Linked DNA regions of Homo sapiens. The protein of the gene in region 3 interacts with the protein of the main gene of each other region in a pairwise test. Each region holds a gene or a part of one and is shown on either strand. Other genes may lie near its edges.

Evidence for each region.
Region 1: the proteins of TMEM140 (region 3) and STOM interact in binary tests that used the Homo sapiens proteins (3 or more experiments, as listed by UniProt).
Region 2: the proteins of TMEM140 (region 3) and HSD17B13 interact in binary tests that used the Homo sapiens proteins (3 or more experiments, as listed by UniProt).
Region 4: the proteins of TMEM140 (region 3) and KCNJ8 interact in binary tests that used the Homo sapiens proteins (3 or more experiments, as listed by UniProt).

What each region holds. Positions count from the first base shown.
Region 1 is NC_000009.12:121,367,228-121,374,579, forward strand, and holds the start of STOM (stomatin), read right to left. Parts: upstream 3,024-7,352; 5' UTR 2,961-3,023; coding exon 2,900-2,960; intron 2,740-2,899; exon of another isoform or gene 2,666-2,739; intron 1-2,665. UniProt on the Homo sapiens protein: Regulates ion channel activity and transmembrane ion transport. Regulates ASIC2 and ASIC3 channel activity.
Region 2 is NC_000004.12:87,305,872-87,312,896, forward strand, and holds part of HSD17B13 (17-beta-hydroxysteroid dehydrogenase 13 isoform A precursor), read right to left. Parts: intron 4,489-7,025; coding exon 4,372-4,488; intron 1-4,371. UniProt on the Homo sapiens protein: Plays a pivotal role in hepatic lipid metabolism. In vitro, it catalyzes the oxidation of a variety of lipid substrates, including 17beta-estradiol, retinol, retinal, and leukotriene B4.
Region 3 is NC_000007.14:135,143,393-135,151,074, reverse strand, and holds the start of TMEM140 (transmembrane protein 140), read right to left. Parts: upstream 3,004-7,682; 5' UTR 2,805-3,003; intron 1-2,804.
Region 4 is NC_000012.12:21,771,705-21,778,931, forward strand, and holds the start of KCNJ8 (ATP-sensitive inward rectifier potassium channel 8), read right to left. Parts: upstream 3,003-7,227; 5' UTR 2,842-3,002; intron 1,983-2,841; 5' UTR 1,913-1,982; coding exon 1,539-1,912; intron 1-1,538. UniProt on the Homo sapiens protein: Inward rectifier potassium channels are characterized by a greater tendency to allow potassium to flow into the cell rather than out of it.

The DNA.
Region 1 (7,352 bases), on a different chromosome or scaffold from region 3:
TTCAGGAAATTGCTTTTCCATGCCTTCTTAAAAAAACTGATTTTGAATTCCATCTGTATCACTTTATCAACATCTTTTTTTTCCCTCAAAGATGACTAGGAATCAGTGACTGTCTTTTACTAGGTAAAATTTATACCATCAAATGGCACCAAAAATCTATTTAATCATGAATAAATATGCCAGTTTTGTAGACTTGGTCTTCCATAAGTTAATTTATGACCACTGATGGAATAACTCAGATTAATTATTGAAGAAGTTACAAAGTTCTCTCCAATCTGATTGGCTATAACAACTGAAATAAACAATCAGTCTCCCAAAGGGTTTTATTTGTTGACATGGCTCTTAATTACAGTGATACATTCTTTGCAATTACTTGCATTATTTCATTACAAAGTGAATGCATCGCCTTTAAGAAAAACTAGTCTTGCCCTAGGCCTGGTGCTATTTACCTACCTAGGACTAATTCTCAGTAAAGACAAAGAGGCAGAGTTTAGGCTTTTAAAATTCCACTGCTTCTTTCACAAGCAGCCTTCTGGAAGTCATCACTGAAGCTGTGTTCCTCCAGGCTTTTTTTGTTTATTGTCTCTCAACTTAAGTAAAGTACTGAAGTTAGACAAGGTTCTACATTTTGGTATCCATCTCTGGGATAGGGAAAATGATTCAGAAAATCAGATAGCCGGGGTTTGAAACAGGGCTGAAAATTTTAGAAACTGTGATTTTGCCATGTGAGCCGCAGTATCCTTATTGTGAAATGGTGAATAATGACTTTTTCCTTGTAGAGCTGTTACAGAATGCAATTAGATAATGTTTGTAAAGCACTTAAACTGTCTTTTGGCACAGGGAAAGCATTCAATAACCTCTATTTAATAAATTCCAGCAATACCTTTCCTAGTAGCGTCAAATTTGTTAGGTTTACATTAAAAAAACACAGACTATGCAAAATTTTATTTGTATGTCTAATTTTTGAGAGGAAGTGGTGGTTTTCATTAGATCTTGAAAGATTTCTGTCTAAACAGTAGTTAAGTGTAGAACCAAGGAAAAAAACTGGAAGTTAAAAACTCATCTATGACCACTTGTCTGTAAATAAACATTAAGTACAAAGATCATGTTGATTCTCAAAGAACTCCAAGCAGATTTGCCACTGCAGTTTCCCACCAGGAGGTCAGGGTATTGAGGAATGCATGCTAATACCCACCTTTTTATCTAGGAAAAGACAACTAACTATCGAAGAGGCAGTTACCACCCATTTTTTCCCTATTCAAGTTTTAGAATCAGTCAAATCTAGATTTAAATACAAACTAAGTGACTTTAAGTAATTTAACTTCTTTGACTATCAGTTTCATCAAGTATAATATGGGGATAAGAATACCTACCACATCATCTGTTGTGAAGATTCAATAAAATAATATATACATAAAATACGTGGCACTGGGGGGGTCGCGGTGGCTCATGCCTGTAATCCCAGCACTTTGGGAGGCCGAGGCGTGTGGATCACTTGAGGTCAGGAGTTTGAGACCAGCCTGACCAACATGGTGAAACCCTGTATCTACAAAAAATACAAAATCAGCTGGGCATGGTGGTGCACGCCTGTAATCCCAGCTACTTGGGAGGATGAGGCAGGAGAATCACTTGAACTCGGGAGGCGGAGGTTGCAGTGAGCGGAGATCACACTCCAGCCTGGGCAAGAAAAGCGAAACTCCGTCTCAAAAAAAAAAAAAAAAGTGATACGGAGCCTGACCTATTTAGTTTCAATTTTTGTTGTTGTGGTTGCCATTATTCTCATCAACTCCTCCCTGTTACACTCTCCATTTGGGAAGATAACCTGCAACGTTATTAGTAGACAAAAAGTGAGGAATAAAGATTTCTGTAATTCCTTTGATGCTCCTGGGAAGGAACTGAACACAGGGATCCCTGGACAAGGGAAATGGAACTTATAGCTAAGATGCTGTGGATAAAGCTGGCTTTACAAATAATCAGAATAGATGACTCCAATGTCATGTTCTTTGAGGGGTCCTGGAAAGGACCACCCAGCCCTCTAAATTGCTTTCACTGCCATCCTGCCTGAAATTCCATCTTTAGAAACACTGTAATTCCTCTGGATCACTAAGAGCTCCTGAGTGGGTACCAGGACTCCTGAGAGGTCCACCATCTCTCTTTATTGGAACCCCCTCCCCAGAGTACCAGTTCCTCCACAGGGGAACGAGACTGAGCCACTTACAGCTCCTGCCTTGAAGACTGGGAAGGGAGGGTGGGGGTGAGGGTGGGAGAACTCAGGGTTCCTGGCGAGGAACAAAAGCCGGGAAGGAGAGTTCTCCAAAACGCAGAGGAAAGCGGAGGGGGAAAAATGGGGCAGAAAGTGGAGCTAGAAAGAGAGGTAAGAAGAAAGCCAGAGAGACTTCTTCCTTCTGCAAATCGGTCTAAGTTTCGGGAGGTGGGATTGGGGGAGGAGGGGGTTCACCCTGGGGCCAGGCCAGGGCTGGGTGGAGGAGGCGGCCTTCGAGAGAGTGAGTCGGGAAAGAAGGGGAGTGGGCAAAGGGTGAGATGTGGGGTCCCGGTCCCCGCCTCGCTGGCTGCCAGTTCCCTCTGCGTTTCCTAGTCCGCGTGCGTGACACGAGATAGTGCAGCCCTGGCATGGGGCTTGGCATCTGGCGGCCGCGAGATAACCAGGGCCCGTGCGATGGGAAACGTGCCGTTGGCAGCCCGCCACCCCTCCATCGTGACCTCAGTCTGCCAAACAGGGTTCGTGATGCTCAGTTTACTAGGGAGGAGCCGCGGCTTTGAGATCTCGCCCAGCCCGAAGCAGCGGAGACTGGCCAGGAGCCCGGCTGTCAGACCTCGGAGCGCACGCTGCGGGCGGGGGCTCGGTCCACGGGGGAGGGTCAGGGGACGCGGGACTCACCCTTGAAGGAGTCGGGGAGCCGCTGGGCTTCGGAGTCCCGTGTGTGCCGCTTCTCGGCCATGCTGCCCGAGACGCAGTCGCACTCCCCCGTCCTCGTTGCCAAACCCGGAGCCGCCGGGAATGCCCTGAGGAGCCAGAGGCACAAGACCCAGATTGCCGCCCCGCCCCCAATCGAGGTCCCGCCCTCGTGAGAGTTGGCCAATCAACGCCCAGGATCGAGGAGGACCCACCTCCCAATCCCCGCCCTCCTGTCCCTCCACGGCGCGACTGCTTCGCAGTCACTTCCCGCTAGTTCTGTGGGCTGAGGGGCGTGGCCTGAGGGGCGTGGCCTGAGGGGCGAGAGCCCCCAAGGCTGTGGGTATGAGGCCGGGGCCCTGCACCGGAAGGGAGGGCGGAAGCCACGGGACGTGGAGCAGATGGTGAGGATAGTGGGGAGGTAGCAGCAGAGGATGACCCGAGGCAAAAGTGCAAGTGAAGAAAAGTCGCCTTGCCGGGCAGAGGTACGGGACCAAGGCGCCTCCTCTGGGCTGAGGAGTTAGAGGGAAGAAAATGGCGCCCTGTCATGAGGGCGCGAGGTCCGAGTTGAGGGGAGAAGACTGAGGGACACAGAAGTGGCCGAAGTGAGGGCGCTGAGGTCAGCCTGAGCTGAGAGGGCCGGCAGATCACGCCGCAGCCGAAGTGAACGAACTCGAGTGAGGTGTGTTAAGAAAATCAAAATGTATAAATTTGGAAAAGGAGAGGAGGCCGGGCGCGGTGGCTCACGCCTGTAATCCCAGCACGTTGGAAGGCCGAGGCGGGTAGATCATCTGAGGTTAGAAGTTCGAGACCAGCTTGGCCAACATGGTGAAACCCCGTCTCTGCTAAAAATACAAAAATTAGCCGGGCGTGTGGCGCGCGCCTGTAATCCCAGCTACTTGGGAGGCTGAGGCAGGAGAATCGCTTGAACTTGGGAGGCAGAGGTTGCAGTGAGCCGAGATGGCCTGGGTGACAGAGCGAGACTCCGTCTCAAAAAAACAAAACAAAAAACAAAAAAACAGGAGAGGAGACTTTATTTCTTGTAAGGGGTTACAGCCTGCAAGGTGGCCATTCCGCAGGCTGGAGAATGGCCAGGACCAGAGACAGGCATTTCGTTGGAGGAGGGGTTGGAGTAGCGGCTTTATGCTGAACAGCTTGGGTAGACATGCATATTCAGCAGGTGACAGGAGGAGCTATGAATATTCATGAGGGTGGTCCTGACGCATGCCCATTGAGCAAACATGCATGTAACATACAACCCATGTTCATTTTGGAGTGAAGAGTTACCAATTAAATGTTAAATGCCTGGCCTGCATGGTGACGTCCCCATCTCTACAAAAAGTAAAAAAAAAATAGCCAGGTGGGGTGGTGTGTGCTTGCGGTCCCAACTAGTCAGGAGGCTGGGGCAGGAGGATCACTTGAGCCCAAGAGTTGGAGGCTGCAGTGATGTATGATCAGATCACTGCACTCCAGCCTGATGGACTCTAAAAAATAATAACAATACATGTATTACAGTTAGACCCCATGCGTCAAAAGGTCTTTTCAGGACAGGAAGGTGTGCAAGTATGCAGTCTGTGTAAACTAGCCAGAGCCAGTCCATGGTCGGTAGTTTTCCTATGAGGAGAAAGTTACTGAAATCAGCCTCTTGTCCAATTAAAGCTGTAATGATGGCTGGTGGAATAGGGGTTCCATTAGGCCACATCTGGTGGAGCTGCAAATTGTTTTAATATTGCTTATCTCGAGGCCAGTGCTTGTTAAGCTGCTAGAGAAAGAGAACAACCTTGTGGCAGTTAGAACACAGTTTATTCTCTAAGTGAAGGGATGTGTGCCTTAACCTTTGCCTGGCATGACCTTAGGTATAATTTGTTTATAATTTGGTATCTTATTGTCACAAACAGTCTGTTCTGTCAGTCTTATGATCTGTGTTTTAACGTTAATGCTGGTCAGCTGTTGTGTCTAAACTCCAATACGATGAAGTTATAATGAGGCGAGTCTGACCTTCTGTCCTGTCATTGGCTGGGAACTCAGTTTTAAAGTTTTCTGGAGTCCCCTTGGCCACAAGGGAGTCCATTCAGTCGGTGGGGTCATTTATTCAAACAAAATCTTCTTGGAGCATCTTCCATGTGGCAGGGAGTGTGCTAAGGGCCTCGTGGAGTTTACCTTATACTCTAGTTGGGAGATGGGCCACAAACAAGTAATTGAATCATTACACATGGTGAAGGAAGCTGTGAAAGGAGTGGAATATTCGGAGAACAGCAAAGGTTAGGACAGGGGAACACCTCTGTAAGGAAGGGGCTTTGAGATGTCGCCTGAGAAATGAGAAGGAGCCAGCCTGGGGAAGGGGAATAAGCGGTGCAGGAGGTGGGAAAGGGTATCCCAGGTAGAGGGAAAAGCATGTGCAAGGGCATTCCCAACCTCAGGCCTTCTCTTGGGGTGTGGCTGAAGACCTCATATTTGGAAAGTAGGCTGTGTTTGCATTAGACTTGTTCTATTGCACAATGTTCAAAGTATGTTAATGTACACAAGGTGCACTTATAAAAACATTCGATTTTGAAATAAGTACAGATTCACAGGAATTTGCAACAACAGTACAGAGAGGTCACATGTCCCCTTTACCCAGTTTCCCCCAATAGTTACGTCTTACTTAACTAGAGTATCAAAACCAGGAAATTGACAGTGGCACAAAATGTATTTATAGTTCTGTGCCATTTTAACATGTGTAGATTGATATAACCACAGTAATTGATACAGAACTATTCCATTACCACAAAGATCTCCCTCAGGAGGAGCACTTCTTTCTTAATGTGCTCAATATTTGGCTGTGTACTACCCAACACCTTGTGGTGCTTAGGTCATATGAAATGGTAGACTTTCTCTCTGATTTTACAGCTCTGGAGCTTTGTGACTATCAGGACGGAAACGGGAGCAGACACAACAGGTGTTAAGAGAGGCATTAAGATGATCTTTGCTTGCAGGAACAGGCTCCAGTGTGTGATCAAAACCTGACTCAGAGCTTGCAGTTGACTTTTAGTCAAATACTGGCCAAGAACTGTTTGTATTCCTGGGATGGAGTGCAGCTTGTGCAGTCACTTTGTTAGCCTTCTGGAGAAGATAAGGAGGGGAGTACAGTAATTTAATGATCCCTTCTCTCTAAATCATCCTTGAGAAAGTCCATAGCTTCATTTTTCCATTCTGTAACGAATAAGCCCTGGAGACATAAACTTCCCGTTTATCCTGTCATTCCCAGGAAAGAGGAGCAAATACACAAGAAACTAATTAAACCCTTCGGTAGAGGAGGCCTTGATTACAAATTGCATATTGTGAAAAAGGATTTAGGTTTCATTTTTGTTGGAAAGGAAAATGGTATTTCAAAATGAATTTAATATGTGTACCCCTATCAGTTACCTAAGCCCAAGTCTCAAGACAATCTTAACAGTGTAGTGTCCCTTCTGGAGAATTAGAAGTGTCTCCCTTTGGGGTAAAGACTTTGGTAAACACTTCTTGGCTCTGGTTTCAGATTGCATCAGTTCTAAAACTAATTCCTGGCCCTAAACTAAGAACAAGCTTTGACTTGATTTTTAAACTGCTTTTAGAATAGAGTTTCCAATTTTTTATTTAAATATGCTTACTCTCACTTGCCCATGAAATTGGTGTATTCTGGCTTTCTCGTGCATATTCTGTTATAAATGTATTGATTAAATGTACTTTAAAAATCAATTTCTCACTCTTAAGATTAGAAAAAAACAAATATTAGTACATCCCTTTCTCCTTTTGGAGGATTTTTAATCTTAAATTTTCTCCCAGTAATGATTAGAAGTTAGAATGATTTTTTTTAAAGAACCTTATGGCCAGGCGCAGTGGCTCATGCCTGTATCCCAGAACTTTGGGAGGCTGAGGTAGGCAGATCACTTGAGGTCAGGAGTTTGAGACCAGCCTGGGCAACATGGTAAAACCCCGCCTCTACTGAAAATACAAAAAATTAGCCGGGCATGGTGGCGCATGCTTGTAATCCCAGCTACTTGGGAGGCTGAGGCAGGAGAATTGCTTGAACCCGGGAGGCGGAGGTTGCAGTGAGCGGAGATCATGCCACTGCACTCCAGCTTAGGCAACAGAGTGAGATTCCATCTCAAAAAATAAAATAAAATAAATAAATAAATAACATTATGCTTTTTAAATGGAGACATATAAAATTGTGAGTACTTTGAAGAGAGAATTTCTTATCACCTCTAACAAAACTGCTATTACAATTTTGGTGAATTTTTCCTCTAGTTGTTATTTGAAGGATACTTATATATAGTTTGAAAATCAGAGTAGATGTTCCATATTTCCTTTATTTTTTATTTTTATTTTTTATTTTTTAGATGGAATGTTGCTCTGTCACCCAGGCTGGAGTGCAATGGCATGATCTCGACTCACTGCAACCTCTGCCTCCTGGGTT
Region 2 (7,025 bases), on a different chromosome or scaffold from region 3:
GCATCAAGACATTCTAGCCTGCAAAACAGTAACTTTATTAACGTCTTGCAGCGGAGTACGTTAATAATCGTAACCATGCATTAAAACTCTCATTTCATGTCAAAAAGAGAGTAATCAGTTTTCCTCATGATTTATGTTTTACTGAATTTCATACAGTTCGTCCCTCTGAAAATGTTTTTAGGAACATTCCCTCTCCAAGGAGTGCATCTTAAGATACCCAGGTTGCTTACGACAGGTCATCTTTGGTCATTTTAAATCAATCTGTCTGAACCTATGTGTGCACCTTTGTAATATTCATAGTTCAAATTGGATGCAAATATAAATAAAGCACTGATACATACCACTCTTCTCACTCTCTTATCTGATATGAGTAAAGATCTAAAACTGAAGGTCTGAGCTCATTGCTGAAACTGCTGATTAATCTTGATGCTAAAAGCTCACCAAGAGACACCACCAGAATCCATTCTATGCAAGCCTTCACCTCTCCTTTACTATTTACTGAATATCTATTATGCACTCTATAATAAGGTAAACTAAAGTACTTGAAAAATAGCTATTGTCTTTGATATTGTTTAGCTGATAGGCTAAAATGGTCATCTTAAAACAATTATTGAAAAATATCAGCCATCTAGAATTAAGGGCTATAACTGGAAGGAGGATTCACATGGGCTGGGATAGTGGAGGAAAGCTTCAAAAGGACAACTGATGTCCAGGAATGCATAAGAGATGAGTAGGCAACTGAAAGGAAGAGAGTGGCTGGCCCGGTGGCTCACGCCTGTAATCCCAGCACTTTGAGAGGCACAGGTGGTCAGATCATGAGGTCAGGAGTTCGAGACCAGCTTGACCAACATGGTGAAACCCTGTCTCTACTAAAAATACAAAAAAACTAGCCAGGTGTGGTGGCACATGCCTGTAATCCCAGCTACTCAGGAGGCTGAGGCAGGAGAATTGCTTGAACTCAGGAGGTGGAGGTTACAGTGAGCTGAGATCAAGCCACTGCACTCCAGCCTGGGCAACAGAGTGAGACCCAATCTAAAAAAAAAAAAAAAAAAAAAAAAAAAAAGGAAGACAGTATGTGAATGTAAAGAGGCAGAAATAATAACATTCTGCAGAGAAAGTCATATTGAAAATCACTTTGGTATTGTTGACTAATGCAAGATTTACTTCCTTGTTTTGGGGGTAGGTGGGTGAAAGATGGAATGAGCAAAGGGGCAGGGAAGATCTGGCTGAAAGAAGGACAAGGATAAGAAGAGAGCTCATGTGGGCCTTTTAACTACCCTCACAAAGAAACCTTCATGCTAGTAATTGCATCTGCTCGTAAAATTGTGTCTCTCTATAAAAGGAATTAAATGCAAAGAAGATTAACAATATATACCTGTTGCCTAGTTACAAACCACCATGACAGCTTCAAAGGATACAAAAGACTTTGAGACTCTTGTTTATTTTACTGGGATACTATTCTCCAACTCAGGCAGAATAATTGTTTTTATCACCTTGGTCATATGCATGTATATGCATGTAATTTTCAATATTAATATGACTTGCTTTGGGCCCCAAGAGAGTTGGGGTTCCATGAAACTCACTTCCTACAGTGCTTAGTACCAAGACACTAATTTAGTCAACTTTTATTTTTTTTCATTTTTTTAAAAAATTTATTTTTCCGAGACAGAGTCTCCTGTTGCCCAGGCTGGAGTGCAGTGGCACAATCATGGTTTACTGCAATCTCCGCCTTCCGGGTTCAAGGGATTCTCCTGCGAGTGCCTGGTATTACAGGTGCAGGCCACTATGCCTGCTAATTTTCGTATCTTTAGTAGAGCTGAGGTTTCACCATGTTGGCCAGGCTGGTCTCGAATGCCTGACCTCAAGTGATCTGCCTGCTGTGGCCTCCCAAAGTGCTGGAATTACAGGCGTGAGACACCACACCCGGCCTAGTCAACTCGCGAGATGATGTTGCTTGGGGGTCAAGGTTCTCCTTATGTTATCTCAAGTCAGTCTATTTAAGCTAAAACCAAATACTGAAATTGATACACCAATGCAGTTTGTACCCTGTTCTCAAATTGTTCTATTTCAAGTTTGTTCATAGTTTATATGGATTTGTTTCAAAAAGGCCCAAGGCTTATGAAGTTAGTATAGTTATCTTCTCACTGATACAATTTCAATTTAGAAACTGCTCCTCAGAAGAAAGCTGAGAGAGTATTTCCTCTGGGAAATTGTTGCTGTTGCTATTTCATATAAATTCTGTTCTCTAAGACTTTAACATTTGAAGTCTATACATTTTCAGTGACAGGGGCTTTGTTTGTATTACATTATTTTATTCTTATGTCATCCTTATAAAGAAGATATTATCAGCATATTCATTTGGCCAGGTGCAGTGGCTCATGCCTGTAATCCCAGCACTTTGGGAGGCCAAGGCAGGAGGACTGCTTGAGGCCAGGCATTCAAAACCTTTGTTGCCTGGGCAGCAAAGTGAGACTGTCTCTACTAAATAAATAAATAGGCTGGGCTTGGTGGCTCACGCCTGTAATCCCAGCACTTTGGGAGGCTGAGGCGGGCGGATCACCAGGTCAGGAGATCGAGACCATCCTGGCTAACAGGGTGAAACCCCGTCTCTACTAAAAAAAAAAAAAAAAAAAAAAAAAAAAAAAAAAAAAAAAAAAAAATAAGCTGGGCATGGTTGCAGGCGCCTGTAGTCCCAGCAACTAGGGAGGCTGAGGCAGGAGAATGGCATGAACCCAGAAGGCGGAGCTTGCAGTGAGCCAAGATTGTGCCACTGCACTCCAGCCTGGGCAACAGAGCGAGACTCTGTCTCAAAAAAATATAATAAAAATAAATAAATAAATAAATAAGACATTCTAAAGACATTAAAAGGATAATAAGGGAATGTTATGTACAAATTTATGCCAAAGAAATTCTACAACTTAGATGAAATGGACAAATTCCTTGAAAGACACACATTACCAAGAATTAATAAGTAAATTGAATAGCCATGTAGCTATTAAAGAAATTAAATTTGTAATTAAAAACTTTCCCATAAAGAAAATTAGAGGCCCAGGAATCTACCAAAAAAAAAAAAGCTTATCGAGTTTAGCAAAAAGAGGTTTAGCAATTTAGCAAGACTGCAAAATATGAGATCAAATTACAAAAATCCAATATATACTGACAACAAACAATGGGAAATATAAAATTTTTTAAAATGCCACTTGCATTAGCGTCAAAAACCGTCAAATAGGGCTGGGCATGATGGCTCATGCCTGTAATCCCAGCACTTTGGGAGGCTGAGGCAGGTGGATCACATGAGGTCAGGAGTTCGAGACCAGCCTGGCCAACATGGTGAAACCCTGTCTCTACTACAAACACAAAAAGTTAGTTGGGCGAGGGGGCAGGTGCCTGTAATCCCAGCTACTTGGGAGGCTGAGGCAGGAGAATCACTTGAAGCCAGGAGGCAGAAGCTGCAGTGAGCCAAGATCACGCCACTGCACTCCAGCCTGGGCAACAAGGGTGAAACTCTGTCTCAAAAAAAAAAAAAAAAAAAAAAAAAAGAACCCGTGAAATACTTTGGAATAAATCTGACAAAATATGTGCAAGACTTAAACACCAAAAACTACAAAATACAATTTAAAGATTTAAAGATTTTGAAGAAGATTTTAAAAATAGATATTATGTTCTTGGATTAGAAAACTCAATATTGTTGATATGTCAATACTCCCCAATTGCTCTATAGATTCAGTGCAATCCCAACCAAACTTCCAGCAGACTTTTAAAAATGGAGTCTTTATTATTAACTACTTCACTATATTGCATTCTTTTTAAACTGTGTTTCCTTTAGTTAGAATAGTCTTCAGCAAAGTTTGGGCAGAGACAGTAGATTTGGTAGAGAAAATGAATCACTCTCTTTTTATAGACTGGGTAGGAAAATAACAGAGGAAATAACTGTTCTCCCCAGGGATGGAGAGTTTCCATGCCAATTTTCACAACTGAAAGATGCTCCATAATAATAGCTCTATTGGGCCAGGCATGGTGGCTCATGACTGTAATCCCAGCACTTTGGGAGGCCGAGACAGGAGGATAACTTGAGGTCAGGAGTTCGAGTCCAGCCTGGCCAACATGGGGAAACCTGTCTCTATCAAAAAATACAAAAATTAGCTGGGTGTAGTGTGGCAGCACACACCTATAATCCCAGTTACTTGGGGGTCTGAGGCATGAGAATTGCTTGAACCCAGGAGGCGGAGGTTGCAGTGAGCCAAGATCATGCCACTGCAACCACCGCAATCCAGCCAGGGTGACAGAGTGAGACTCTGTCTAAAAAAAAAAAAAGCAAAAAAAAAAGCTCTATTGGTGTTTTAGTATTTGGGTGTTCTGTGCTGTACTTACTTCTGTAGTCTCAGAAAGATATTGATATACGATGGAACAAAAATCATTTTCTTATTGGTAAGTATTCCATCTATCAGACTTCTTACGACTTCATCTGTCTCCAATACAGGCCATAATCTGTGATTAAAAAGAGGAAAATATTATTTTTATTTTCTAAAATTTTAATTTTATAAGTAAATGATGGCAGGAAAATTATCCTATATTTTTACTAAATTTAGAATGAAGATTTAAAATATTCCAGGATTTGCTGCATTAATGCCACCCTACCCACTTCCTCCACATCCCATGTTGATGTTTTGTTATCAGAAACTTATACTTTCATATCCAGTAGGTGTGTTTCATAGCTCACTTAGTCAAAATATCAAAATGGTGGCGAGGCATTAGATGGTAAGGAGTAGTGGAGCCAGACAAGAAAGAGGAATGGCTAGGATTAATCATGGGACAGGAAGGAAACATCTGACATCTCAAAGCCTGTTGGATGCAAGGAGAAAATTCTATAGCTAAGTATACTTTCTTTCTTGTGGAGGTATTCCATAAAGCTGGATTGTTTTGAGGTCGTCATTTTGTCAGAGGCGTTTAAATCAGAGCAACTCCATCTTGAATAGGGTCTGGGTAAAATAAGGCTGACACCTACTGGGCTGCATTCCCAGGAAGTTAAGGCATTCTTTGTCACAGGATGAGATAGGAGGTTGGCACAAGATTCAGGTCATAAAGACCTTGTTGATAAAATAGGGTGCAGTAAAGAAGCCGGCCAAAACCCACCAAAACCAAGATGGTGATGAAAGTGACCTCTGGTTGTCCTCACTGCTCATTATAAGCTAACTATAATACATTAGCAAGCTAAGAGACACTTCCACCAGCACTATGACAGTTTACAAATACCATGGCAATGGCAGGAAGTTACCCTATATGGCCTAAAAAGGGGAGGAAATCTCAGTTCTGGGAATTGCTCACCCTTTTCCCGGAAAACTCATGAATAATCCACCCCTTGTTTAGCATATAATCAAGAAGTAACTCTAAATACCCTTGGTGGAGCAGCTCAAGCCATTCTTCTCCATGGAGTAGCTGTTCTCTACTCCTTTACTTTCCTAATAAACTTGCTTTTGCTTTGCACTGTGGCCTTGCCCCGAATTATTTCTTGCGAGAAATCTAAGAACCCTCTCTTGGGGTCTGGATTGGAACCCCTTTCCGGTAAGAATTTCGTATTTGAGATTCACCTCTGACTTGCCTATCCTGCAGTTTAATGAGAATTTAAGAGGGGCCCAAGGAGTATGACAACTGGAGGTATGTCATACTTCCAGTTTTCCTTATACTGAAGGCTGTGTACATGTACTCTTGAGAAATATTCATAAACATAGGCTTAGTGTAGAATTGTCTGTTAGTGCAAGATGATGACAGAAAAATGGATTTAAAATGTTGTATTCAAATTAAGATGTCCAGGCATGGACTGAACAGCCAGTGAATGTAAAGGCTGGGTGAGGAGTTAGGGAGCCAGCGAATGTTAAAACTTCATTCCCTGGGATGATCTGTGGTTTGCTGCAGATTATTATGTGATTGAGTTCTCCACTGCCTTGAATAGCAAGCCAACAGAGAGTAATACAAATCAATACATTTCTAAATTACTCCGTTCTGCCCTTTCTCTCCCTGATTTCATCTACATGGATCCAACAACCCAGCCTCGGAGCCAAGTGTGACATTACATATCAATGCCTTAGCCCTTACTAAGGAAATTCACAATCTAGCAACCTCTATAAAATCAATCCCAAATATTTAGCATTGCCTGTGTCTACCTCTAAGTTAGCCCCCAGGAACCCTGTACCCAGAGTTCCATTATCCTTACTCCCCTCATCTATCATGCCTTCCCCAAGAGTGGCAGGATACCCTTAGGAAAGCTCATGGTACACGAAGCCTGAATGCCTACCAAGAGGGTTTTTATTGGGCCCAATTCCTTGTCTAAGAAAACAATCAGGAGTTGCAATAGTACTATAGTATTTACTTACATATTGCATACTTATTAAGTACTGTGAGACAACGTAGCAAATGTAAGAAGCCACGTTTACTCACTTCTGGTTGTCAGCATAATTTCACAAAGTCCCTGACTCTGTGACAATGTGCAGCTCTCTGGAAAGATGCTTTGAAGACAATACAGGATAGAGCACATGGCCCCCACTATCAGAACAGTTCAACTGAACCTCTCTAAAGGGCTGCTCTCAGGCTATAGGCCTCCGACTGTAGTCTTCAGTAAGGCTTCTAAATAAAATTAACACCTTTAATTCTTTTTTTTTTTTTTTTTTTTTTTTTTTTTGAGACGGAGTCTCGCTCTGTCGCCCAGGCTGGAGTGCAGTGGCGCGATCTCGGCTCACTGCAAGCTCCGCCTCCCGGGTTCACGCCATTCTCCTGCCTCAGCCTCCCGCGCAGCTGGGACTACAGGCGCCCGCCACCACGCCCGGCTAATTTTTTTGTGTTTTTTAGTAGAGACGGGGTTTCACTGTGTTAGCCAGGATGACCTTTAATTCTTTAAAAACTTATTTTTTTGGCCGGGCATGGTGGCTCACTCCTGTAATCCCAGCATTTTAGGAGGCCAAGGCAGGTAGGACACCTGAGGTCAGGAGTTTGAGACCAGCCTGGCCAACATGGTGAAACCCCGTCTCTAC
Region 3 (7,682 bases):
GCATGAGTCCAGGCACCCAGATGACAAGCCATTGAGATAGCTGTTTAAATGGTTCCATTAATATTAACTTGCTATTTGTGCAATTGTTTTGTTGACTATTAGCTCTCACTAGCAGATAATCCAAGTGGGAACAAAGATTACAAAAAGTTTAGAGGGAGAAGAAAATCCTTAAAAATGAGAAAATGTCTACAAATGAGCCATCTTAATTTGTTTGTTTGTTTGAGACAGTCTTGCTCTGTCACCCAGGGTGGAATGCAGTGGCACCATCTTGGCTCACTGCAATCTCTGCCTCCCGGGTTCAAGAAATTCACCTGCCTCAGCCTCCTGCCACCACGTCCAGCTAATCTCATTTGGTTTCTGTTGGCAGGACTCCACGGTCCAGTTTGTGGGCGGCCAAGATTCACAAGATTCAGAGTTTGAGAATCAGTAGTACCAGAAACTGGTGACTGCCTTTGGCTGTCAATGGTTAGTTTTCCCGCACCAGCCCTCTCTTCCGCAATTACAAAGGCAATTTGCCACCCACTTCGACTCGTGGGGTCAGCATTTCATCTTGTAACTCTGTTAGTGACACATTTTGGATGACTCCCTGAATCAGAGGCCCTGGGGAATCAGTGCCACACAGGACAAACCAGGTGCCTGCTCTCATTGAGCTTGTACTCTAGTTGGGAAGGCAAACACCAAATGTATTTTTTAAAAGGTAATTATAATTTTTGAAAAGGTTTGGGAAAGAAATAAACAGGGTGAGTGAGAGAGAGAAACTGGCAGGAGGAAGTGATGACTAGATTATAGGGTCAGGGAAAGCCTCTCTTCAGAAGAGATATTTGTTTTGAGTCCTGAAAGGGTTCTTCATTAACTAATACTGAAGCAATTGATCAGCTAACTAGAAAAGAGAAACAAAACTATTTTAGGTCCTCATCTCACTCCACATACCCAAATAAATTTCACATGGATCCAAGAGTGAAAGGTAAAACCAGATAAAAAAATCAATGATCTGGAAAAAAGGATATATTTGATTTATGAGTGAAAAATAAAATTTGGAACTTAAGAGCAAATGGAAACTACAAATAAAGAATTGCACAGGTTTAACTATTCTAAAATAAAGATTTCTATTCACCAAAAACAACATAAATATAATTAAAAGTCAATGAGCATGGAAAATATCTACCACAACTATGAAATGATTAATGTACTTAATGTTTAAAATGTTTACGCAAACTGTCAAAAAACATTACACCTCATTAAAAATGGACAAATATGAAGAGATAATTCACAAAGAATGCAAAGTAGTTAACTAACATGAAAAAAAATTCTGTAACTTTTCTAATGTAATTAAAGATACGCCAAGTAAAAAACCAGAGTTTCCCTATCAACACTGTAGGTAAAAACACTTGATGATACCAAAAATATGGTTAAACTGGCATTCTCACACAATGATGGTGGATGTGAACATTTGTACAAACTTTCAGGGAGGCAGATTGGCAATAAACATTAAAAACCCTAAAAATAGTCATATCTCTTTGGCCCACTTTTATAAATCTATCCTAAGACAGCAATCAGAAATCCAGTCAATAATTTATACATAGGAATGTTCAGCACAGCATTACTTTTGGCACAAAATGGGAAGCAGCTTGAAAGTCCAATATCAGAAGTAAACTATGATGTATCAAGGATAAAATACTATGCATCTTTTAGAAAAAGCAGGTATAAAATCACTCTACATAGTGTGACTACATCCATATAAAGAGGCATAGGAGAAAGAGACTAAAGAAGTATTTGAAAATGTTAATGTTAGCTGTGGTAGCTCTGGGTGGTGACATTACAGGCAATTGTTCTCTATTTGCAGTAAAATATTTTTAGAATTATGTGCTACATTTATGAAAAAAAAAGAAATTTATAAAACAGGCATTCAAAACAGCCTTAGTAATTAGATAAAGCAGGGACTAAGCTGGAAAGAAAGTTGAGAAAGGGGAATATGTGCAAGATTGAAAAAATATCTCATGGACTGAGTCTCAGACCTGAGATTTTGGGGAATGGGGTATGGTAAGTGGATACTGAAAAATGCTCTTCAGTTATCATGAGGGAAGAAGGAAATATGTGTCTTTTCCCTCTTTCAAAGGAGCCTTTGATTTTATAGGCGAAGAAGCATAGTGGAAGTTATTAGTGAAACTAAGCCCACATTAAAAAAAATCTCTTAAAATATGCATCAAGAGAACTAAAATACCACCATGGATTTCCACTGGGGCATGAGGAGCAATCTGGTCTAATGACTAACATAAGATCTAAACATCTCTTAGGTCCCATTCTTTGAGGCAAGAACACAAGTTTTTCTGTTGATATTAATCTTCAGTGTGTATTTTAAAGTTTTATGATGTGTTCGTAACTACCATTGAATAGTGGTTTAGTTAGTGTTGGTCGGTGACCTGCTTTTGTTTACCTATTTCTGATGAACAGTGTATTGCACAAGCCACAGCCATGTCCTTGTACACACTGCGTGCAAGACTCTGCTGTGTGCAGTCAGCCCTGCATCGTTTCTAACCAGTTATACTGGCCTTACTTTCATCATCTTTGAGGCCAGAGCTACACATGTTGATGCCGAAGAGTGGAAGGAAGGAGAGCAGAGAGTAAAGGGGGTAGATTATGTAGATTATACAGACATGAGCGAGGGAGGGTCACAGATACTGAACAACCAGTGAGTTCCCCTATGTGGATTGCCAGAACATGAAATATCTGAGAAGAAAACAAAATTGTCTTACAAGGTAGTAGACGTCTGGGTAAGCTGTGATGCTTGCAGGATCGGTACTTACAGAAAGGAGGTGCAGAGACCACAGGAACACTCATGAAAAGGAGAAGCAGGAAATCAGGGTTGGTTGTTTGAATCTTCCTTCTCGCTGGCTTTCTAATGTCAGACTCCAGAAAGGAGGAGTGGAAGGGAAATGGCAGGCAGATGCAGTCCTGAGCTGGTGCCCCCTTGCCTTCGCAGTCGTGCCTAGTAAACAGCTCTCTGAACTTTGGTACATTTGTTCTGACTGATGTCACTATCAGCTGATTTCACTTTCGTTTCCTAACTTGCCAGTGGCCCATGACTTTTCAGAAATGAGGTATGTAAACAACTTTTTATTGTCCATTATGACATACTCTTTACCTACACTGTAGCCGGCAAACCAACTGATTTAAAGAGCCAGGTAAATGTCTTGATTATATCACACAATAATTCCAGAAAGGGAAGGAGCCAAAGAACTCTCGAAGCTCCCAGTGATTTAAACTGCAAGATAAACACAACCCGGAATTTTATTCAGAAGAAACCCATCAGGATCATCTGGTCCAAGCTCCCAGCCAGTGTGGCAGTCAGGACCCAGGTCACCTCCTACTCATTTCCTTGGGAAGCAGCTATGCCGTCTGTCCCCCAACCCCTTTTAGAGATCAATTTTGTAATGATGACTGGGCTTCTCTGGACACAAAACTTTGTGTCCTGAGCATTCTCACTGCAGTGTTTAGGCCCATGTTGGAGCAGCTGGAACATCTATTTTATTTCAAAATAAGAGCCGAACAAAGCTTTTATTTTTGTAAGCATTGGGGCTCCTGGCCAGAGTTTAAAAATTGCTTCCGTTGCTCACATGACCAACTGGAAATTTCAACTGTGGGTTAAACTTGGTTACATGAGACTGCTACCTAGTGCTATTGCTGAATCCTTCAGCGGTTCTCTTCTGCTTCCTTGCCCTTCCTCCAAAGGAGGAGTTATTTGAACTGCTACATTGCCCTCCCCCTGCCCCTAGTTCTTTTAAACGCAAACTCTAGAAAGAGGTGATGGGATCCAGGAGGAAGGAAGAACAGAGGCTTTGAGATCAGAGAGTTCTGCTACATACTAGCAAATTATTTAATCTCTTTGAGCATCAATTTCTTATCTGTAAAATGGAAACAGTACCTACTTTGCATGGTTGCTCTGGGGACTGGAGATAATATAAGTGCTTAGTACAATACTGGGACCATAGTAATGGTAGCTATTATTATGAAAAGTGGAATTTCTGTATATTTAGTCTAGCATCCATATTAATGCCTTTAAGACAGAAAATTAACTTTTAGATACTAATATACAGTAGTTACTCTGAAAACTCAATACTGGTGAGTGAAGTGATATAGAAGAGATAGAAACATATTTATATTTATGAAATTTATTCAAGGTTATCATGTACCTAGTTTTCAAAGAGTCAGTTTTTCAAAACTTACGAAAATCGGCAGTCCCACACTCTCCCTTTCTTCCTCTTCAGAGGCAAGCACTTTCACCTGTGCTCATTCTTTAGGCATTTACCTCAGTTCTCTAAATAACATGCTTGGATTGGTACTTCTTGATTTTTCAGTTTCAGGCATAATCTACTGACTCCCAACCATAAAAGGTGAAGATTTAGCTTTCTTCTTCCCCACTGCATGTTCCAGAAGTATGCTTCCTCTCTTCCTCCTCTATCCAAATTGGTTATAGTTTTGTTTAAATCAATATTCAGTGTTTACAATATTGGAATATGCACAGGTATACTTTATTTTATTGTGCATCTCTCTTTGTGGATCCTGCATCTTTTACAAATTGAGGATTTGTGGCATTTTTGCATCGAGCAAGTCTATTGGCACCATTTTTTCAATAGCCTTTGCTCACTTCATGTCTCTGTGTCACATTTTGGTAACTTTTGCAACATTTCAAGCTTTTTCATTATTATTATGTTGGTTATGGTGATCTTTGATGTTACTATTGTGATTGTTTTGGGGTGCCATGAACCGCACCCATATGACGGTGAACTTAATTGATAATTCAGTTCTGACCGCTCCACCAACTCTGTGTTGGTGTTCTGACCGTGTGTTCTGACCACTCCACCAACTGGACGTTCCTCCATTTCTCTCTCACGTTAGGTCTCCCTATTCCTGAGACACAATAATACTGAAATTAGGCCAATTAATGTCCCTACAATGGCCTGTAAGTGTTTAAGTGAAAGGAAGTGTCACATGTCTTTCATTTAAAATTGGAAACTAGAAATGATTAAGCTTAGTGAGGAAGGCATTGTGAAAGCAAAGATAAGCCAAATGTTAGGCCTTATGTTGTGAAGGCAAAGGTTCAGATGATTGTTAGCATTATTTAGCAACAAAGTATTTCTAAATTAAGGTATGTCCGTTAGGTTTTTTTAGACATAACAGTATCACACACTAAATAGGCTACCTTATAGTATAAACATGACTTTTATATGCACTGGGAAACCAGAAATTCGTGTGATTTGCTTTACTGTAATACTTGCTTTATTGCAGTGGTCAGGAACAGAACCTGCAACATATCTCCGAGGTGTGCCTGTAAATACCATTTACAGCAGCTGAGCCATGTAGAAAATTAAGATTACTTTTCCTATCCTGCATAACTTTTGATCTTCTCTGAAGATAATTGCTTTTTTTAAAAAGTTTGTTTGCTTGCTTGGTTTTCTATTGCTTAACACTAATCCAACCCTCAAATCTTTATCAAATCTTCTATGAATAAATTTCTATGCATCAAGTATTCTATATCTTCCTGAGAAAGGCTTTTCAGACCCTTCCAACCTGCCCCAGTCTGGGGCTTGACACCACACACAGCTGTTGTCCTGGCTTCTCACATCACCACCATGCTGGGGATTCCCTTTACTTCTGTCCTAGGTTGGATCTCCTGCTTCCTGCATCAAAGGCATTTCTCTTTCTCCATTTATTCAGTTCTGGGAGAGTAAATCTCCAGTAACTTCCTGAGAAATGGGTACACTGAAGAGAATTTTTTGAGAACTTACAAAACTGAAAATATCTTCATTCTAACTTGATCTATTCAAATGTGATCAAATTTAGACTGAATATAAAATTTTAGGTTAAAAATAATTTTCATTTATAATTTTGAAGGCTTTGTCCCATTATGTCTGGCTTTCTTGTTTTGTTGAGAAGTTTAAATTTGTTCTGCTTCCTGGCTTCCAAAATGGTCTCCTCTTGTCATCCTTTCAGCTTTATGCCTTAAAAAATAAATTATTTTGGTGGTTTTGAGAGGGAGCAAAATTGAATGTGTATCCAGTTTGCCATTTTTAACTGGAGGTCTAAAATATTTCTTTGTTCCTCTTCTTTTTTTTTTTTTTTTTTTTTTTTTTTTTTTACTCTTTTGAGACAGGGTCTCTCTGTCACCTAGGCTGGAGTGCAGTGGCACGATCACAGCTTATTGCAGCCTTGACCTCTTGTGCTCAGGTGATCCTCCCACCTCAGCCTCCTAAGTAGCTAGGACTACAGGTGCGTGCCACTATGCCTGGCTAATTTTTATATTATTATTATTATTAATTTTTTGGTACAGATAGGGTTTTGCCATGTTGCCCAGGCTGGTCTAACACTCCTGGGCTCAAGGGATTCACCTGCCTTGGCCTCCCAGAATGCTGGGATTACAGGCATGAGCCACTGTGCCTGGCCTCTTTCTTATTCTTTATCTTCCCTTTTTCTTTTTTTTGTTTTTACTCCAAGAGGGTTATTTCTTACTGTCTCTTTCACTGGTTCTCTGGCAACCTAGCTGGCCTATGGTTGAGCTTGTTGCTTTTATCAAGCTACTCATTTCCTCTTAATTGCTTACTGTCAAAATCTCCATTGTTTTTGGCAGTACTCTTAACCTTGAACTTCCCCACACTCTGTTCCAAACAAGTCAGTTTACTTGAGGACAGCTTCAGAGCTCTCTGTTCTTAAGGCATGCCTCTCCTCTGGGCAACATATCTGAGCCACTGCTCTGGACCTGGGGTTGGTGACAGTGGCTTGCATCTTCTAGAGTGACCCATCTACTTTTTGAGCATGGTCCTGAGTGGCGTAGTAGCCTCTGGTCTTTTCAACTTCAGCTTGACTCTCCTGGCATGGAAACTCCACACTATGAAGTAGCTGGAGAAAAGGTGACCAGGAATCCAGTATTCCCAGCCCACTGAACCTTTGCCTTATGGTTGAGTGGAGGAAGGGAGTCCCTGACCTCTTGGCCTCATTAGCCTCAAATGTTGTTTCTGCTTCACAGCGGTAGGGAGATGAGAAACGCTGGCAGCCTTCTCCTCCTAGGGGAGATACCATAGCCCTTGACTGGGAGCTGGAGTGACTGTGATCCCAGTGTTCTTGGCCATATCCTCCCACAGTGGAGTTTCCCTTCTGCTGAACATGGGGGAAGGGAAGGAGTGGGCCATGGCTAAGTACCAGAGACCCTCACTTTTCTTACAGGAATTTAGTAAATTTTCTGAATAAATATGTCTTTATTTGATGTATGTCCTTAGGACAATTTTCCTAATGGTTTTTAAAACTTTAAATGGGTTTTTCTAAAAAATATTTCTACCAGGTTCCCCTCCCTGCCCACCACTGGGGAGTGGGTGAGAAGCTTCTCAGGGTGCTGTTTTAGAGCTGGATCTCTGCCCATTTTTTTTTTAAATTCAATATTAAACACTTCATTTCTTAGATTGGTTTTAGGTTCACAGGAAAATTGAGAGGAAGGTACAGAGATATCTCATGTAATTCCTACACATACCCTCAGCCGTCTAGTTTTTTTTCCTGTGTTATCTTCCAGATTTATAGTATTGCATTTTACATTTAGGTCTGTGATCCATTTTCAGTTAATTTTTGTGAAGGCAATAAGGTCTGCATCTGGATTTGTTTGTTTGTTTTTGCAGTATGTGGATGTCCAGTTGTTC
Region 4 (7,227 bases), on a different chromosome or scaffold from region 3:
TTTCTTTTTTCTCTTTTTATCAGTATCATATAATTTAGATTAAAACTTTATTTTGATATGAAAATGATTCACCAATTATCAGTGCCAGTAAGTTTCTTAAAGATATATATTATAGATAATGATATTTGATCTTAGAGTATCTATTGAACGTTTTAACGGATATTTTAAGTATTGTGTTTTCTTTATATCTGGTATACTGATGATCTATGTTTTCCAGCTGCATTTTCTTTGAGACAACAGTTTGTGAGAAGTTTGAAAAAAGAAAATAATATCTAATCAATATTAAAAGCAATAGATCAATTCAATACAGTTTTTGCTGCTCAGAATTTGAGCTGAAATCTGTGGTGTGTGATCTCTGCGCACTAATGCTGCCTTCCTCCTTGAAAGGCTGGCATTGTAGTTCCTTAGCAAATGGAAGGGTGGACAAGTTCACAGTCTGGGGTCCACTTTCTGCAGTGATATGCTAGCTTAATAAGGTTTCAGGGTCACTAGAGGTCCCATTCTTTACAGTTTCCTGGTATCATAATGCTTTTTCAAGTTTCTTTGCTTTGTGAATTATGTGAATTTAAAATGTTCTTTTAAAAATGTTTTGGAAAATTTTCCAGTATTATTACTACTCTTTTGCTTCACAGTGAACATCTTGGTAATTGATATAATTTATCTCTTTCCACCTCCCCCCGAAAAAAACAAAGAAATCACCTCAACTAAATGTTCTTAAACCATGTGAAAGCAAGAGAGGTGAATCACTGAAATCAATTTACCTGTCTTTGAGATACTTATGATATGAGAAAGAAGCCAAAGTTAGGTAATCTAAGAACTATCTTGTCCCTATTCTATTTAAACTTTGAAAGAAGAGTACAAAATTAAATTGCTTCTATATAACCCCTTCCATAAAATTTTGGACTAATTGTCATTAAAAATTAGCAATTTCTAGTTCTGAATCTTAGCATAACTTTTAATTTCTGAATCCAGTGCAAGCAATCAGCTATGTTATGATAATCTCGATAAAGAAGGGATGATATTTATTTCATTTTTTAGTAGATTTTTAATCTAGGACACTCTCCCCCTAGGGCCTTCCCATTTTTTTCTTATTATTTCTGAAAATGTCATGGGTTAGAAGAGTCAAGAAAAATGTCCACTAGCACAATATTTTTTGTTGATCAGAGATATTTACCTGTGGGCACTGAAACTATGGACAACAGCTTTTTCATACTGAACTCAATGTGTGCGCTTTTGGAGTAAAGCACTCTGTGTAATCCTTTGAATTACAATTTTTTTTTGATAACTGGTATAACATTTTCAAGGCTAGTCCAAAGGACTGAAGCTCAGGTTTTCAGAGACTCTTCTCCATAAAGCTGCATTTAAAAAATACTTACTGTGTTAGGTGTTGTTCTTTATTGTGCTTTTTTGTTTCTGAAGATTCTAAAACAAACCCTTTATTTCACTTTCAATTAAATAACAGAATGATAAGAGAAAGGGCATTTTGACATTTTTTCTCTACTGTTTTCAACCCCTGCCTCATCCCACTACATTCTTACCTGACATTAGTCACACACACAGTGGACTCCAAACCACTTTTCTCCATTCCACTTTTCTCCATGTAAGCATAGATGTCCCCATGGGCAAAGGCCACCAGCCACCACATGATAGCGAAGAGCAGCCAGCTGCAGAGGAAGGACATGGTAAAGATGACCAGCGTGTGGCGCCATTTCAGGTCCACCAAGGTGGTGAAGATGTCCTGTAGAAAGCGTCCTTGCTCACGGATGTTCTTATGCGCCAGGTTGCAGGCCCCGCTCTTGGCGATGAAGCGGGCTTTGGGGAGGCGGTCTCGGATGCGCGGCTTGCGCAGGTTCTCTGCGGCGATGCGCGCCAGCACATACTCCTCCGGGATGATACTCTTTCTGGCCAACATCGTCCTGTCACCATAGCCAGCTTAGCCACCTCCCTCTCACCTGCCTCTCCGTCCCTGGACACCCGTCCTCCTGCACGAGGGAAACATTTATTAAAAACTTAAAAACCCACCCTATCCTCACCTCTTGGGTCCTTGTATTCAAGGATATGTCTGTACATGTGCGAGGTGACATGCAAAACCAAAAATGTGATTTTTACTAACCCAAACATGAATCTAGCTTGTGCTTGAGTTCTGGGATCTCAGAAAAATTACTTGGTTTTAATAAAAAGAACTGTTTCAATTTTTCTTATTCTGAGTACATATGGACATAGCCTTAGTTAAACAAAACCAGGAGCCTTCCGGTAAACAGCAGGCTCAAAGATAATTCTCTGCGATTAACCGCGTCTGTAAATTAGTGCAAGGCTACAGCACGTGGCGTCAGTCATGAAGATTAAGACCAGTTGGGTGCACGATCTACTTATTAAAGTACTTAGATGATGTAGCAATATTAAAAGTAAAGAGAGAAAATTCTTCCTCCGTTATTTTTAGAAGTAAGCAAAGGCCATGACTCCTTGCGCAGTCTAAATAACGTGTAATCTGACAAAATTATAATAAGTGGTGTGCTATAGAATTTATAAGTTATAAGAATTATTTTAAATGCGAAAGAAGTATGAGTTGCATCTAAAAAGAGTTAAAAAGGTTCCTGTGGAAATCATAATATTATAAATTGAAAACTTTTTTTTTTTTTTTTTTTTACAACGAAGGAATCAAATATACAAGGTGCGGGGGGGAAAAAACCCAAGACAACAGCCTGCGGGTTGCAGTAGGGAGTGTGCCCCGAAAAGTCCATCCATCACTGCAAGCCTCTGCGGTGTTTTGCATTTTAAATCATTTACGGGAACACGGACAGCCTCCCCCCTCCGCTCCCCCGGAGCAGCTTTGAAACTTACAGACTCCGGGTAGCGGGCGCGGCGGCTGGACCTCCTTGCACACGCCGGCGGGCCGCGGGCAGGTCCCTCGCTCTCCCATGCTGGCGCGCGGGACCAGGGGCCGCCCAGGCCGGAGGGACAAATTGGGGGCTGCGTGTCCTAAGGAGAAGAGTTAAAATAATAAAAGGTGCAACTGAATCTAAACGCAGGGAGGGCTAGAGGAAGGGGGATGGGTGTAGATCTTCCCCTCCCCCTGCTCAGCTCAACTCCCTTGGCCACTTCAGTGGAAGGAGGAGGGACTGGGGGGGCGGGGGCGGGGGGGCGATGCTCCACAAATCAGCCTCCCAGTTAGGGCTTTGACGCACGCCAGACCTCGGAAGCCGACGTTGTCGCGGAGTAGGGGGCGGGCGGGGAGGGGGCGAGCGCAAGTCCCCGGGAGGTAGGGAGCAGGCCAGAGGGAGGGACGACCCGGGGGAGGGCGGGACCTGCAGAGCCAGCTCCTTTCCAGTAGCCGCGACCCCCTGCCGCCAGCGTGACACACAAGTCTTTAAAAGGCTCTCTGCTCAGGGGAGAGAACTTTCTGACTCCAAGTTCACTGACGTAAGGAGATTTAATTTTAATTTTATTTTGTAATCTAGGTAGATAACTGGGCTACTTCATGATAACTGGGCTACTTCGGACTGAATAAAAGCAGAGAGGTCAGAAAATATTCTTCCAAAGCGTTCAAGCTGTGGGCACACACAATTATTTACATTAAATTTCCACCTGCTAGGAGAGATACAGGTGGAAGATGTTCTGAAACCCACTATAGTAAAGTATTTCTTCACCAGCCAAAGCCAGTTCTCAGGGAATTAAACACACACACACCTCAAAACAGCGACTGCCCCCCACCACCCCCGGCCCCTTAAGGAAAAGAAAGAAAAAAAGAAACCACTGACTGGCTCCCAATGAAGAAATTTTACCCCAAACAGGGACGGCCGTTAACACTTCAGCGCTGATAAGGCCAGGTCATTCGGTCCTCAGTAATTGGTTGCTTTCTGAAATGTTGCAGCTTCTTCCTCTGTCTAGATGGGTCTGAATGATAAAACAGCATTTGCGCACAAAAAAGGTTATACAATAAACATCTATAGCTTTTTGAAAAGGAGCCAGCGAAGACAAATGTGCTTTTTCCCACAGGTCAAGCCTCCTGATTTTGGCACTTGCGTTAATGGAAACTTTAATTCTTGGAAGTTCCACGTATTTTCCAAGACTCGAGCCGAAAGTGTATGGAGCATAAACAATGTATTCATTTAATTAGCCAAAGACCTAAAATTAGTCTTTAATGAAGGCAAATTAAGAACTTTTTTTTTCTCCTTGTGGTTAGATCTCCTTAACCCCTGTAAGCCCAGGATCCTAGTTTGTTAGTGGTAGTCCTCCTTTCTACTGTCATTAATTTTTGCAGTAATTTATGTAGTATAATAGTTTTACAAGTCTATGAAGAATCAGTTTGTATAGTCAATTCCCGCCATTGTTCTATTTTACCTTTGACTTTGTACACATTATTATTCATTATTTTAGCCTGGGGAACATTTACTGAACACCTTTGTAAGCTTTTTTTAGGTTTATGTGTCTAGAGATATATAAATATATGTCATAGTTGTTGCTTTTAAGAGGCAGACAGTTGTAGTAAGAGAGATATTCTCTAATACAAGCAGGGATGTGATTAGAATAGGAAAGGAAATTTTAAAATGTCATGGGAATTCAAATGAGAGATATTTAAGAGTAGGAGACTAAGGAAAAATCCATGGATTATTTGGCATCTGATCTAGGCTTTGTAAGCCTAGATATATTTAGGGTATACAGAAAAGCAGAGAAAAGACAGCCCACGTCAGCATTGATGAAGCCAAGTTGGCTACACAGCAGGATTGGACACTTGAGTTCAGTGCTCCCTGGGCAGGCGCTGTTACCACCTACTCTCAATACTTAATGAGATTTTCATGTACTCGTCACACCCATTCCCACCACTCCTGTACCCCCTCCCTTAAACTGGGGACTGCTAGAGGGCAAGGCTGTGACTTGTTCATCTTTGTAGCAAGGCCCTAGCACCATTTAAATTATAAATGGGCTCAAAAAATATTTTTGAATCAATGAATGAAAAATACAAAGTTGAAAAAGCATATTGGGGCCTTAAAAAATGCATAGACAGCCTTAAATGCTCAACAAAAGAAGCTGAGGAGTCCTCAGTATGTAGTGGTAAGCCATGGAAAGATTTTGATCAGAAAACTACACAATAAGAGCCTGTTTTAAGAGGATTGATCCAGAAGCAGAGAATATAATGGCTTTAAGGGTTGCATTTCTTGAGTATAGTCCCTCTGGGCTCCAAAATTCTGTAACTGGCAGAAGAGGGTGCTGGAAACTGTTACATTAATTAGAGAAGGAATGAGGTCTTGGGCTAATAGGTAACATCAGTGGGCACTATACAAATACATACAAAAGGAATGTTATACAGAGTCAATATTGGAAAAGGGAAAAGTCAGAGGTGACTGTGATGTTTATCATAGTAACAGAAAAATAATAAGAAAATTGGAATGAGAAGAGCTGAAGTACTGTGGAGAATTTATGAGAAGATTTGCAACAAAAAAATCCATATCTGAATTCTCTGAAAATTCTGTTCTTTTGGTATAATACATATTTCAGACTCTTTTTTTTCATTGAGATGTATTCTTCCAAATACGCAATTTTAAATCGTTTCAACTTGCTTTCATAACAGAATGTCATATTTTTATTAGTCAGTAATTTAACTTGATTGATTCAAAATCAGGGCACATAATAAAGATCAAATTTGAAGAAATTAATAAGTAAATGTTTGACAATAGTAGGCCTAAGAACAAATAGTAATCATTTTAAATGGTAAAGAATGTGTGCTATAAGAATATTACAGATATATATTTTTCTTTGTATTCCCTTTCTACATTGTTTCCTTAAGCAGTGTATGTCTTTGTCCTTCAACTAGTTTTTCTGCACTAAGTGGAAGCTGCATGAGAGCACATTGTTTAATATCACCACACACCCAGGGTCTCAAATTGTTCCGAGATCCCAAGAGTAGGTACTCAATAAATACTTGTCAAATGAAAAGAAGTAGGAATAGTGTTCAAAACATGGTATTTCTCTCTCTTGCATTTTCTCTCTCATCTCTCTCTACCCTTCATGGTTTTGCAACTATTTCTCAGAACCCACATAGGAAATGTGAACTTTTGGAATTCACTTTGAAGTCTGTTTCTATAGCTGTCTACAAAAATTTTCTTATTCTCACTTTTCTCTTTACTATATTGCTCTACCTTTAAATCAAGCTTGTCCAACACGTGGCCCGCGAGCTGCATGCAACCCAGGAGAGCTTTGAATGCTGCCCAACACAAATTCGTAAACTTTCTTAAAATTATGAGATTTTTTTGTGATTTTTAGCTTATCAGCTATCGTTAGTGTTATTGTACATTATGTGTGACCCAAGACAATTCTTCTTCCAATATGGCCCAGGGAAGCCAAAAGATTGGACACTCCTGCAAAATTATCCATTTCTCCCTTCTTTAGCAACTTCCCTAACTTCCCTAATTGCTCTAAGTCAGCAATACTTAAACTTGTCTGGCATTTGCTAGCTAAGTTTCTCTTTACAACTTGATTTTAAGCTTAACTGACATATACCTCTATCCCCCAAAAGTCTTTCTGGACACATAGTAACTGCTCAATAAATATTTATTATTGACTGACCTCTAGCTCTCCCTCATATTATGGTCCAAACAGTGAACATTTAAATTTGCCTCTGGCTGAGAAATTGGCAAAAAAAAATCAATTAATTTTCAAGAGCACATTTACTACTTAGGGCTTATTTTATTCATCTGCTTATTCAATCACTATATGCTGTTGTCCACTAAAAGTTAGGTATATTTTCTTAACTGTTCAATAATTTTCTTAATTGTTCTTTCAGGAGTGAAGACTAATTTGCACACTACCAGAGGATATCAGTAATAAGTTTAGAACACAGCTAATTTTATTTACTATTATAATTTTCTTGAGTATGCAGGAATCCTGTTAGAATTTACTCATGTTGCAGAAATTTATGCAATTAAAAAGCAATTAAAAGATTTTGGTTCAGTTGTAAGTCAGCATCTGCCAGGTTCCTTTTAGACCCTATGAGCATTTTTCTTTGGGTTTCTGACATTCTCATTCTCTTAAGAAACAAAGCTTGTCAAGTGCCTTTAGACAAGTAGAGAAAATATTAGGTTGATGCTTTTCCTAATTGTCTGCTGCTTTGATTACCAAATGCAAATCAGTGAAGTTTCTGAAAGTACCCTTGAGAGCAAGGGTGAAATTCTTCCAGTTGTTGACTTTGCCTTTGACATGACTTGTAGACTTCAAACTCTTGGATTTCCT